3 linked regions of the Homo sapiens genome follow. The protein of the gene in region 3 purifies or fractionates together with the protein of the main gene of each other region. This does not show direct contact. Each region holds a gene or a part of one and is shown on either strand. Other genes may lie near its edges. The genes, in order: RPF2, ZCRB1 and MAK16.

What was found.
Region 1: the proteins of MAK16 (region 3) and RPF2 purify together in Homo sapiens (affinity purification with mass spectrometry; 2 studies listed by BioGRID and IntAct, with this or other methods). This does not show direct contact.
Region 2: the proteins of MAK16 (region 3) and ZCRB1 purify together in Homo sapiens (affinity purification with mass spectrometry; 2 studies listed by BioGRID and IntAct, with this or other methods). This does not show direct contact.

What each region holds. Positions count from the first base shown.
Region 1 is NC_000006.12:110,980,480-110,984,307, reverse strand, and holds the start of RPF2 (ribosome production factor 2 homolog), read right to left. Parts: upstream 2,271-3,828; 5' UTR 2,202-2,270; coding exon 2,179-2,201; intron 1-2,178. UniProt on the Homo sapiens protein: Involved in ribosomal large subunit assembly. May regulate the localization of the 5S RNP/5S ribonucleoprotein particle to the nucleolus.
Region 2 is NC_000012.12:42,324,459-42,328,058, reverse strand, and holds the start of ZCRB1 (zinc finger CCHC-type and RNA-binding motif-containing protein 1), read left to right. Parts: upstream 1-1,964; 5' UTR 1,965-2,135; intron 2,136-3,600.
Region 3 is NC_000008.11:33,494,954-33,498,781, reverse strand, and holds part of MAK16 (protein MAK16 homolog), read right to left. Parts: intron 3,241-3,828; coding exon 3,166-3,240; intron 2,158-3,165; coding exon 2,041-2,157; intron 1,551-2,040; coding exon 1,485-1,550; intron 351-1,484; coding exon 153-350; 3' UTR 1-152.

The sequences.
Region 1 (3,828 bases), on a different chromosome or scaffold from region 3:
CCTAATACAAAGAATTGAGCATCAACTGCTGATCAACCTGTGGACATTTACTAAACATAAGACTAACGACTGCTTATTTTTCTTTTAGGTTTAAGACCACAATGCCTGCCAGGAAGTATACACTGTTGCACTCCAACATCATTGCTGAGAATGCCAGTATTATTGCCAACAATGGGGAATAATAAGGCTGATGTTTACATGGAGTCACTCTATTAAGGCTTAATCTTCACCACAATCCTGAGAGTTACAATTCTTATTTATTTATTTATTTATTTTTTTGAGACAGAGTCTCGCTCTGTCGCCCAGGCTGGAGTGCAGTGGTGCGATCTCGGCTCACTGCAAGCTCCGTCTCCCAGGTTCACGCCATTCTCCTGCCTCAGCCTCCCGAGTAGCTGGGACTACAGGCGCCCGCCACGACGCCCGGCTAATTTTTTGTATTTTTAGTACAGACGAGGTTTCACCGTGTTAGCCAGGATGGTCTCGATCTCCTGACCTCGTGACCCACCCCCCCGCCTCAGCCTCCCAAAGTGCTGGGATTACAGGCGTGAGCCTCCACGCGCGAGTTACAATTCTTATCTTCACTTTACAGATGAGGCAATTGAACAGACAGGTAATGTGCCCAAGATCACACAGCAAGTAAACAGGCCAATTTTTAAAATGAGCTAGGGCTGGGAGGTGGCCCACAGCCTGTAATAAAAACACTCTAGGAGGCCAAGGTGGATGGATCACTGAGCCCAGAAGTTCGAGACCAGCCTGGGCAACAATGCAAAACCCTGTCTCTACAAAAAATACAAAAATTAGCTGTGGTGGTGTGCGCCTATAGTCCCAGCTACTCAGCAGGCTGAGGTAGGAGGACTGCTTGATCCCAGGGAGGTCGAGGCTGCAGTGAGCTGTGATGGGGCTACTGCACTCCAGCCTGGGTGACAGAGTGATACCCTGTCTCAAAAAAAAACAAATTTTTTAAAGCTAGATTTAAAAATTCGTCTAGACCAATTACCCTGTAAAATATGAAGGGAAAATAAATTCATTATTCTGACTTTATGATGTGACAGTAGGAGTGGCATGTTTTTACACACTTCTGTTCAAAAGAGGGGCTTCACCTCTGCTTCCTCTACAATGAGCACCTTGCTTTTCAGACAGTTCTCTGCCATCTACTGAAAGAATTCTTCCTCCCAAATAATTATGACCCTCCCTCGTCCAGTCCCATGGACACTTTGGGAAGAAAAAGAGACCATACATACACTTAAGTTTCCCATGTAGATTTTTAAAATACTCCTCCAGATATAATGTCACATATAAAGCTTCTGATCATTTACTGGTTGATAAAGATACAAATTATTCTATCTTTTGTATCTCATTAAACAGCAACAAATGCAAATAGCAATTAACATGTTTTATTAGCTGCCTGCTCCCAATTAACGTGTGAACTAGTCCCAATACCTAGTAAACTACTCTTTGTAGTCCAAACAGCTAGAGGCATAGCAGGTGTGCAAAATCTCTGAATGACTAAAACTGTCGTTTTGGATACATGTTAACTTAGGTAAATAGCAAGAAAATCACAGCAAGTAACAGCAGGGCTGTTTAGCCCAAATATTCTTGAACAAATTTAAAACAGGTATCATTCAAGGATAACTCAGAGGAGTGTACAAAGTTGGAAGGAAAAGAAAAAACTAATGAACATTTCTACGTGCTGCAGCAAAGGCTCTACATACATTCTCGAAACTAACCCTCACAGCTCTATGAAGTATGACTATGGTGAGCGCTATTTTACAGAATAAGCTAAGATTTAGAGATATTTAATGACCCAAAGTCACAAAGCTTTAAGTGGACGCGCCAGACTGTCACTCAGATCTGTCGGATTCCGAGGGCTGTGCTCCTAACCCCACTATACCATCTGTCTCATACTTCGGAAGTCAGACGTTTTTCAACTGGCTAGGATAAAAGCGGCCAACGCTTCAATCCCACATCCCTCCCATCCCACGGCTCCCACTTGAGAGCTTCCCCACTGTCTCCTGGCAAGCAGCTCGCGCTGAGGAGGACCCGGGCTGGTGATCGATCGGCCCCCACCCAGGTAATTAGAGGGGTAACCAGGAAGAGTGAGAGGCCGAGACAGTACCACCCTCATCACGGGACCCTTTCACCCCAACGCTCCCCGGGGCTGAGACCCAGCGCACTTACACTACTCGATCCAGAGTGTCCATCGCTACCGCTACCTGCAACTCTTAACCAGGGGGCATGCACGTGCCCTCGGCGATTACGTGCGCCGGAACAGGCGGAACCGGAAGCTGCGCGTAACGCCACTTCCGGGGACGGCCTCGTAGAGGGCGTCTAGAGGCGCTGGCGGCCATCTTGATTGGAATCGCGCCCTGTTGTCTTGGTTACGGATTTTTGCCCCGGCTCTTTCCTGGAGTTACAGGTGCGAGGTAATACTTTTAAGTAACACTGGCCGGGCGTGGTGGCTCACGCCTGTAATCCCAGGATTTTGGGAGGCCCAGGCGGGCGGATTACCTGATAACAGGAGTTCGAGACCAGCCTGGCCAACATGGCGAAACCCCGTCTCTACTAAAAATACAAAAATTAGCCGGGCGTGGTGGCGGGCGCCTCTAACCCCAGCTACTCGGGAGGCTGAGGCAGGGAGAACTGCTTGAACCCGGGAGGCGGAGGTTGCAGTGAGCGGAGATCGCGCCACTGCACTCCAGCCTGGGTGACAGAGCGAGACTTCGTCTCAAAAATAAAATAAAAATAAAATAAAATAACATAGACCCTCGCAGTTTGATGTACGCGCTAGTGTGCATACCTGGAGTCAGGTATTCAGAAACCAGATTTTATTCTTCAAGGAATCCCAGGATGCTAGAAAGGTTGATTGATTGCACGGTAGGTACTCACATAAGCACTAAAAACATTGATGTGAAAGGGGCACTATTGACAACTATGCGATCTGTGTGACAGAATTTATGACTACCACAGTTGCCTAGTACATAAAAGATGCGCAGAAAATGTACTGCTGTTCGTGATTTTTCCCCAGTTTTTAAGTTACCATATACTTCACATACCATAAAATGTACCCCTTTACAGTGTACAATTCAGTGATTTTTGGTGTATTCACAAAGATGTGCAAATATCACCACTAATTCCAGAATATTTAATCACCTCAAAAAGAACCCCCCTGACACACACACCCAGTAGCAGTCCATGCCCCACTTCCCCCTCCTGCCAGCCCTTGGCAACCAATAATCTACTTTATGTTCAATGGATTTGCCTATTCTGAACATATATAAATGGTTTCGTGCAACGTATGGCCTTTTGTGTTTGACTTCTTTCACTATCTTTTTGAGGTTCATACATGTAGCGTGGATCAGTACTTCCATTTTGTTAGGACTGAATAATATTCCTTTGTATGGATATACCACATTTTGTTTATCCATTTATCAACCTAGGTACTTTTTTTATTTTAGACATAGTCTTGCTCTGTCGCCAGGGCTGAAGTGCAGTGGTGCGATCTTGGCTTACTGCGCCGTCCACCTCCCGGGTTCAAGCAGTTCTGCCTCAGCCTCCCAAGTAGCTGGGATTACATGCACGCACCACCACACCTTGCTAACTTTTGTATTTTTTAGTAGAGACAGGGTTTCACCATGTTGGCCAGGCTGGTCTTGAACTTCTGAGCTCAGGTAATCCACCCGCCTTGGCCTCTCAAAGTGCTAGGAATACAGGCGTGAGCTACTGTACCCGGCAGCTTATGTACATTTGAATGGTTCCTATTTTTTGGCTATTATGGATTATGCTGCTTTGTGTTTTTTTGTTTTGTTTTGCTTTGCTTTGTTTTGTTTC
Region 2 (3,600 bases), on a different chromosome or scaffold from region 3:
GAGACTTGTGTTTGACCCACTTTTTTTTTTTTAATAAAATTCTATTCCACTGACAACATTTAAAAACTGGGAGAGGATGCTTTTTAAAAAATGGTATTTCCAACTTTTTTTGAAAAAATTAGATGTTCTGGCAAAACTGGGATCATATTCTCACATAGCCACAATCAGCTGTAGCTGAGTGGCAGGTGACCCCTTCTAAGGGTGAAGTATTCATTAACGTTAACTGCCTGATCTCTGCAGCATACCTTCAGCACCTGCAATCATTCAAGAAATAACTGACTGTCTTATGTGCCAAGAACTGTATTAGCTACTGGAGTTACAAAGATAAACGAGACAAACACAGTCCCTCACCGACAGTCTCGCTTAGTAGGGATGGCAAAGAAGCAATTAAGATACATGTGATAAATGCCGTGAGGGAAGTGCAGGACAGCTAAGAGTACATAGCAAAAATACCTAACTCTATGGAAGTTAGGGTATACCCCTCAAGTAAAGTGACAGCTAAACTCAGATCTTTAATAGAAGTTATCCAGAAAAAGATAGGAGGAAACAGGGAGCTCAAATGTCCCAGAGAGAGAAAAGAGCCTTTGTGAAGATACTGAGGGAAGAAAGTATTCTGAGGAATTGAAATCCGTTCAACATGGCTACAGCCATGCCCAACCTTTAAATGCAGGGTCAGAGAAAGGGCTCAACTGAAATGGCTGGCAGGAAAATCTACGTGTTATCAATAGTTAAGGTTAGGAGATGAAGGAGAATTTCACTAAAGAAGTTGAATATGTAAAATAGTTTAAGCAGGAAATAGAGGTTTCAGAAAGCACAGATGGGGTGTTGAGGGGTTAAATGGGGAAGAAACGAAGAAGCAGTGATAGCCTAAGTCGAAAGAAAGCACAAAGCAGCATGGAAATGAGACTATAGCACAGAAGACCACAGAAGCTTACATCTTGGGCGGTAACCAAGGATAACAGAGATGTAAAGCATGGTAAGTTTGGCTGGCCACAAGTATGCCTAGAGAATTAGTGCCAGCGGTCTCCTGTCGGCCACGGAGGCATTCAGGCCTCTCAAAATTCAGCTGCGCCCTGGATGGATTGTACTTCCGTCTCTATAGAAGACATCGGCTTCACTCTGGATTGATTGTGCAGGCTCCAGGAGAGGCTGTGGGTTCCAGGCTGCTGGAACGCAGGCTCCCAGGGAGTGGTTAGAGGCCTGGTCTGTATGTGCTGGTAGGCAGAAGTATAAATTACCTTGCATTACGTTCTGATTTTTCTGTAGGAATGGTGGGCATGTTATGGCCTCTTAGAGAAAAAGCAGTGCGTAGCCATTATAGATTTACAGGAAGAGAAAAGGTGCCAAGAAGATCAACACTTGTCCATACCCATACTAAAGATGAGTCATTCTGTGAATCCAACTCTCCCCAAGTTGACCTCGTCTCCCCAACTAGACTGAGATCTTCACCAGAAAACAAAACAAAACAAAACATAAAAGGTCTGTTTATTTTGTAGTTCCCAAAGTGCCTAATAGCTGGGTACCGTGAACACCTTCAGTAAAATTACCGACTTCCTGACTCCTCTCGGGTCACTGAAGTTACCTAGCTCAGTCGTCTTCTTGCATATTAAGGCGCTACAGAGAGGCGAACCCCTATCTTAGACTCAATACTTCCCTTTATTCCAAACTCCACTGCGTCTCTCCACCCTCAACCGCATGGGCAGAATTGTCACACAATTCAAAGGCAGGAGAATCCAGGACCCGACACAGAAAACTCCCGCCCACTCCCCCCCGTTTAGCAGCCCGCACACGCTCTGCATCCATCTCTGGGAAAGGTAAAAAGCGCTCACCGACTCTGGCCCTCCGGGAGACCCCGTAAATGCAGCCGTCCGCTCGCCGCCGTTATCCCAGGTAGGTACTTCCGGCGCGCGCAATGACGTTAGCGAAGCGCTCGCCTCTGGGCCCGCCTTCGGGGCCCGGATCTCAAACAGTCGGGAAGAAGCACCGTGGCTGCTATTATCTGCTCTCCGCGCCTGACCCCTCCCAGGACTCGTGATGCCAAGGCCGCTGCGAGCGGCTACGAAGAGTCGGGGTTGAGCCCCAGCTGAGCCGAGGGCTCGCACTCTTCTGGTCTCCCAGGCCCAACCCACCTGAAGGTAAACGCCTCCTCAGCTGCGGCCTTCTCTCCTGCGGGGCCCCCTCCCCAGACTCGGCTGCCAAAACGCTCTGCCCCTCTCTCCCGCCACCCTTTTTATTCCAGGACCTTAACCTCTGCCTGCCTTCGCGGCTCTCAGCAGAACGTGTAACGCATAGTTTCAAATGAGAAACTTAAAAAGCGACGTATCTATGTTGAGTTCCTGAAGTTTTCTAAATAATTCCCCCATAACACCAAACATGAGGCAGTTTTCTCATTCCTTCACGAATTGGCATGCCATAGAGTCAGTATTTTTCCATTTGTGATGGTTGATCTTCCCATCTCAAATACACACCGCACGCTCTTTTTAAATCAGAAATTTGAATTTGGTTGAGCCTGATATTTTCACGGTAATTTGCTGACTTTGTAAGATAAGATGTGAAAATTACTGATTACATTTGTAAACTTTATATACATATACACACATACCTACAGGTCTGTCTCTTCGAGGCACCAAGCCTATTTATATAATGTATCATTTCATAATTTGGCAATAAGCAAAATTAGCGTTTCGAAAGAAGTTTATATTGTCGATACATAAAGCTTAAATTTACTCCTTAACATCATACTAAAAGGGGAAAAGAAAATTTTCCTCTTAACACACCACTCCAGAGAAAAAAAATATTAAGACAAGCAAAAAAGGTACCCAGCCATAGTACAGGCATGCACAGCATAACAACTTTTTGATTAACAACAAACCACATATACCACAGTGGTCTCCTAAGAGTGTAATACATTGTACCATATTTTTAGTGTACGTTTTCTGTGTTTAGCTATGTAAATATTTACCATTGTGTTTCAACTGTCTACATTATTCACTACATTAACATGCTGTACAGGTTGTAGCCTAGGAGCAATAGGCTAGACCATCTAGGTTTGTCTCAGTACACCCTGTGATGTCTGCACTGTGAAATCACGTAACACTCAGAACATACCTCCTTCATTAAGCATAGCATGACTGTGTATTAGCAAAAATCAGTGGCTAAGGTTCTGTCTGAGTCCCCATGCTCTTTCTGACCTGGGTGAGCAAGGTGCAGGTAATGTACATATACAGTACATATTCAATAGAGCATTTTTTTTGCTCATGGTCTGAGTGGAAGTTAGGAGTAGCCTCAGGGTTTTTCCTTCATCTGTTCAAAACCCGTCTCCCTACCCATACAATCTGGCACTGAAAGTGTTGGTATAAAGAATACTTGAAAGAAGAAGAACCAAAAAAGAATTTTTTTTAAGTGGTGACTGGGAAAAAGGAATTCCTTAATTCAGCCTGCTGGAGTCATTGTTCCTAACTTCCTAAAATGTAAGGAAGGTGTACACATCTGGCATAATTAAATCGGTGATTGTTAATACTTTATTGGTTTTTGTTTTTTGTTTTTTTCCAAATAATACCCAGACTGGTCTGATGTATTGGTTTTATTTGGAATTAATAA
Region 3 (3,828 bases):
CCCACTGACGTGGCATAAATAATAAAAACACAAATATTGTGTTCAGTACAACACAAAAGAGCAAAAACTGGAGGTGTGTATGTGTTTAAGATAAAAAAAAAAAAAAAACAGTTCTGCATGTTCAGTCCTGGGTATAAATGCTGAAAGGGAAATCACGTGGTTTTGGCTTTGGCCACGGGCTCTGTCTCCTGCTCGTATTCTATTTCCACATAGGCTCGTTTTCTCTGCAGTGGTCCTCTCAAGGGCATTTTGCCTTTGTGTTTCGCACTAAGGGCCTTTTCTTCCTCCTCCTCACTGGAGGATTTACCATCCTGATCTTCATCACTGCTGGCATCCAGTTTATCCATATCCTATTACGGGGAGAGAAAAGATAAAGGAAGAGGGAAAACACTAGATTTCTCCAAACTCCCTTCCTTGTCCCCTCAATCTAGAACAGACTAGGGCATTGATTTGTCTATGTCTGTGTTCAGAAATTGTCCCTTTCTTTAATTTTTTTTTTTTTTTTTTTTTGAGACGGGGTCTTGCTCTGTTGCCCAAGCAGGAGTGCAGTGGCATAGTCATGGCTCACTGCAGCCTCAAACTGCTGTAGTCAACAATCCTCCCACCTCAGCTTCCTGAGTAGCTGGGACTACAGGCAACCGCCACCACATCCAGCTGAATTTTAATTTTTTTTTTTTTTTTTTTTGGAGACGGAGTCTCGCTCTGTTGCCCAGGCTGGAGTGTAGTGGTGCGCTCTCAGCTCACTGCAACCTCCATCTCCTAGGTTCAAGCGATTCTTCTGCCTCAGCCTCCCAAGTAGCAGGGATTACAGGCATGCACCACCATACCTAGCTAATTTTTGTATTTTTAGTAGACACGGGGTTTTGCTATGTTGGCCAGGCTGGTCTCGAACTCCTGACCTCATGTGATCCGCCCACCTCGGCCTCCCAAAGTGCTAGGATTATAGGCGTGAGCCACCACGCCTGGTCATGATTTTTAAAAAATTTTAGGCCAGGCCCTGTGACTCATGCCTCTAATCTTAGCACTTTGGGAGACTGAGGCAGGCGGATTACCAGAGGTCTGGAGTTCTAGACCAGCCTGGCCAACATGGTGAAACCCCGTGTCTACTAAAAATACAAAAAATTAGCCGGGTGGAGTGGCACATGCCTGTAATTCCAGCTACTTGGGAGGCTGAAGGAGGAGAATCGCTTGAACCCGGGAGGCTGAGGCTGCGATGAGCCCAGATTGCACTATGGCACTCTAGCCTGAGCTACAGAGCGAAACTTCATCTAAAAAAAAAAATTTTTTTTTTTATTAGAGATGAGGTCTCACTATGTTCTTCAGGCTGGTCTCGAACTCCTGAGCTCAAACAATCCTCCCATTTTGGCCTCCCAAAGTGCTGCAATTATAGGAGTGAACCACGGTGCCTGGCCACCTCCCTGTTTTTGTTTTTTTTTTTTTTTTGCTGCAGGCCAAAGGACAATCTTTTTACCCATAAAGCTCACCTCAAAATCACTTATGTCACTCTCATCTACCTCACCATCTTCGACAAATTCTCTTTTCCCCACATCCTATAAATAAAACATAACTGTTAGGTTCAGAATACATAATGAAGATTCAGATTAGACATCTAAGTAAGTACAAAATAACATAATGAGAACCACAGTCTTTTCACTAGGCAATGAAAATTTAGTTCTTTCTAAATTTAATGCTTCTGAATTTTAAAAATTTTAGGGCTACCAGATCATTCTTATTCTTGATTTAAATTATTAGCAATAAAACATCCTCATTATGGTTAAAAACTACATATAGACAGGAAAGGCTTTATAATTTGTCACCTTGCAGGAACAATTTTAGAAGACCAATAAATTAAGACTAAAATTGTTAATGGTTTGTTGGTTAGCCTGAAGAACAGAGCAACCAGTGCTAAACCAAAATTAATCACATGAAAGAAAAAAGAAGACATATCATTTTTGGTTAGCGGACTGAAGATGATATTCTGTTTCTCAGTTTTATACAAATGGTATCTAGTAGGTTTGGCAAAACAAAAACAAGACTTACTTCCTCATCATCATCATCATCATCTTTTTCCTCAGTATCTGAAGAGTCACTCTCTGCCTCCTGTTGTTCCAGGGCTTTGTCGAAGGCATGAATGGGGAAGTTGTAGATGTCGCCATACTGAAGAACATAAACACAGATTGGCTTTAACTACATTTGGATATTACACTTGAAGTTCCACTTTCTGTGGAGAATATTACTTTTTCCTCAGTGATTAAATCAGAATACTTAATTTGATGAGTAATATTTTTAAGTGTAGAGCCAGCAGTGTCTTAAAAAAGCATGTTCTTTTGAACATTTAAATCATCTGCAGTTAGTATCAAATAGGTAACTTCTATGGAGTTACATTTTAAAATAATTTAAAATGTAATAGTCTACAAAACCCATGCATTGGGACAAATGTCATTTTGCTGACAAGGGGAAATAATAAGGAAAAAGCATACTTTAGTCATGTTGTCTGTATAAACAACACTAATTTTTAAAAAGAGAATAAAAACTTATTTCAAAGAGCCTTAAAAGACTAGGGTAATATGCAGGAGAAGCAAAACCCCATGGCTTTTATACAGAAATCTGGAATTGTTGTCTTGGGGAATGGAGCTGAGAATAATGGCAAAAAGGGAAAGGTCTCTTATAGTGAATGGAGTATCAAGGGTAACCAAAGCATTTTATGTGCTTGCATTAATTAAAGCAAGGAAGCCAGGCCGATATGGATTTATTTTATTCCAGGGATAAAATTCGAGTGGAGATCTTCATATCATGTTAAAAAACATTTCCCAGCCAGGCACAGTGGCTCACGAGGTCAGGAGTTCAAGACCAGCCTGGCCAAGATGGTGAAACCCTGTCTCTACTAAAAATACAAAAATTAGCTGGGTGCAGTGGTGGTGCCTGTAATCCCAACTACTCAGGAGGCTGAGGCAGGAGAATTGCTTGAACTTGGGAGGCAGAGGTTGCAGTGAGCCGAGATTGCACCACTGCACTCTAACCTGGGCAACAAAGCAAGACTCCATCTCAAAAAAAAAAAAAAAAAAAAAAAAAAAAAAAAAAAAAAAAAAAAAAAAATTCCCAATATGTCTTAGCAACATACTACCACTTAAAATTTCAGTACCCCAAAGCTAATGGCTTTCTCACCGTATCTTGTTTCAGTCTCTCCAGTAATTCCTTCTCAATGGCATTGTCCAGCTGAGCAGCTATTAATGCCTTTTCCTATAAGGGGGAAAGAGCAAATCTGTTTAATTCATCAGTGCTCATTACTCATCTTATAAAAATGGAAGAAACTACCAAGTTGTTTATAAGAAAGACAATGTAATTATTTCCCCTCCTTGCTAATACTGGCTTTTGCCTTTCCAACGAGATAGATTTCTTCTTCTTTCTCTTGTAAACTTCCTTGGGAACATTTCCATTTTGAAATTCCTATGGTTTTGTAAACAACATTCTAAATTAAATTCTAACACAGGCTTTGATAGATACAAAGCATGTAAGTCTATATACATTTAAGTGTCTCAGAAATAATCTAGCAACTCTGGAGCCAGACTTTGTAAAAGCTGAGAAAAGAGAACAGAAATCTTCATTCGTTTACATTTTCTAAAATCATGCTAGATTCCATGTGACAGAATAGGTAAAAATCTCTTCCTCCAGTGATCTCTCATTGGAGATGACACATGACATCAACCTGTACTACCACACAATAGCCCAGGATGGTGCATTAATTTGATAGTGAAAGTCATAGAGGGTTTTAAAGTGTTATATCTGTAAGTTATGTTAGAATGATTACGTAAAACTGTGTAGGGGCAC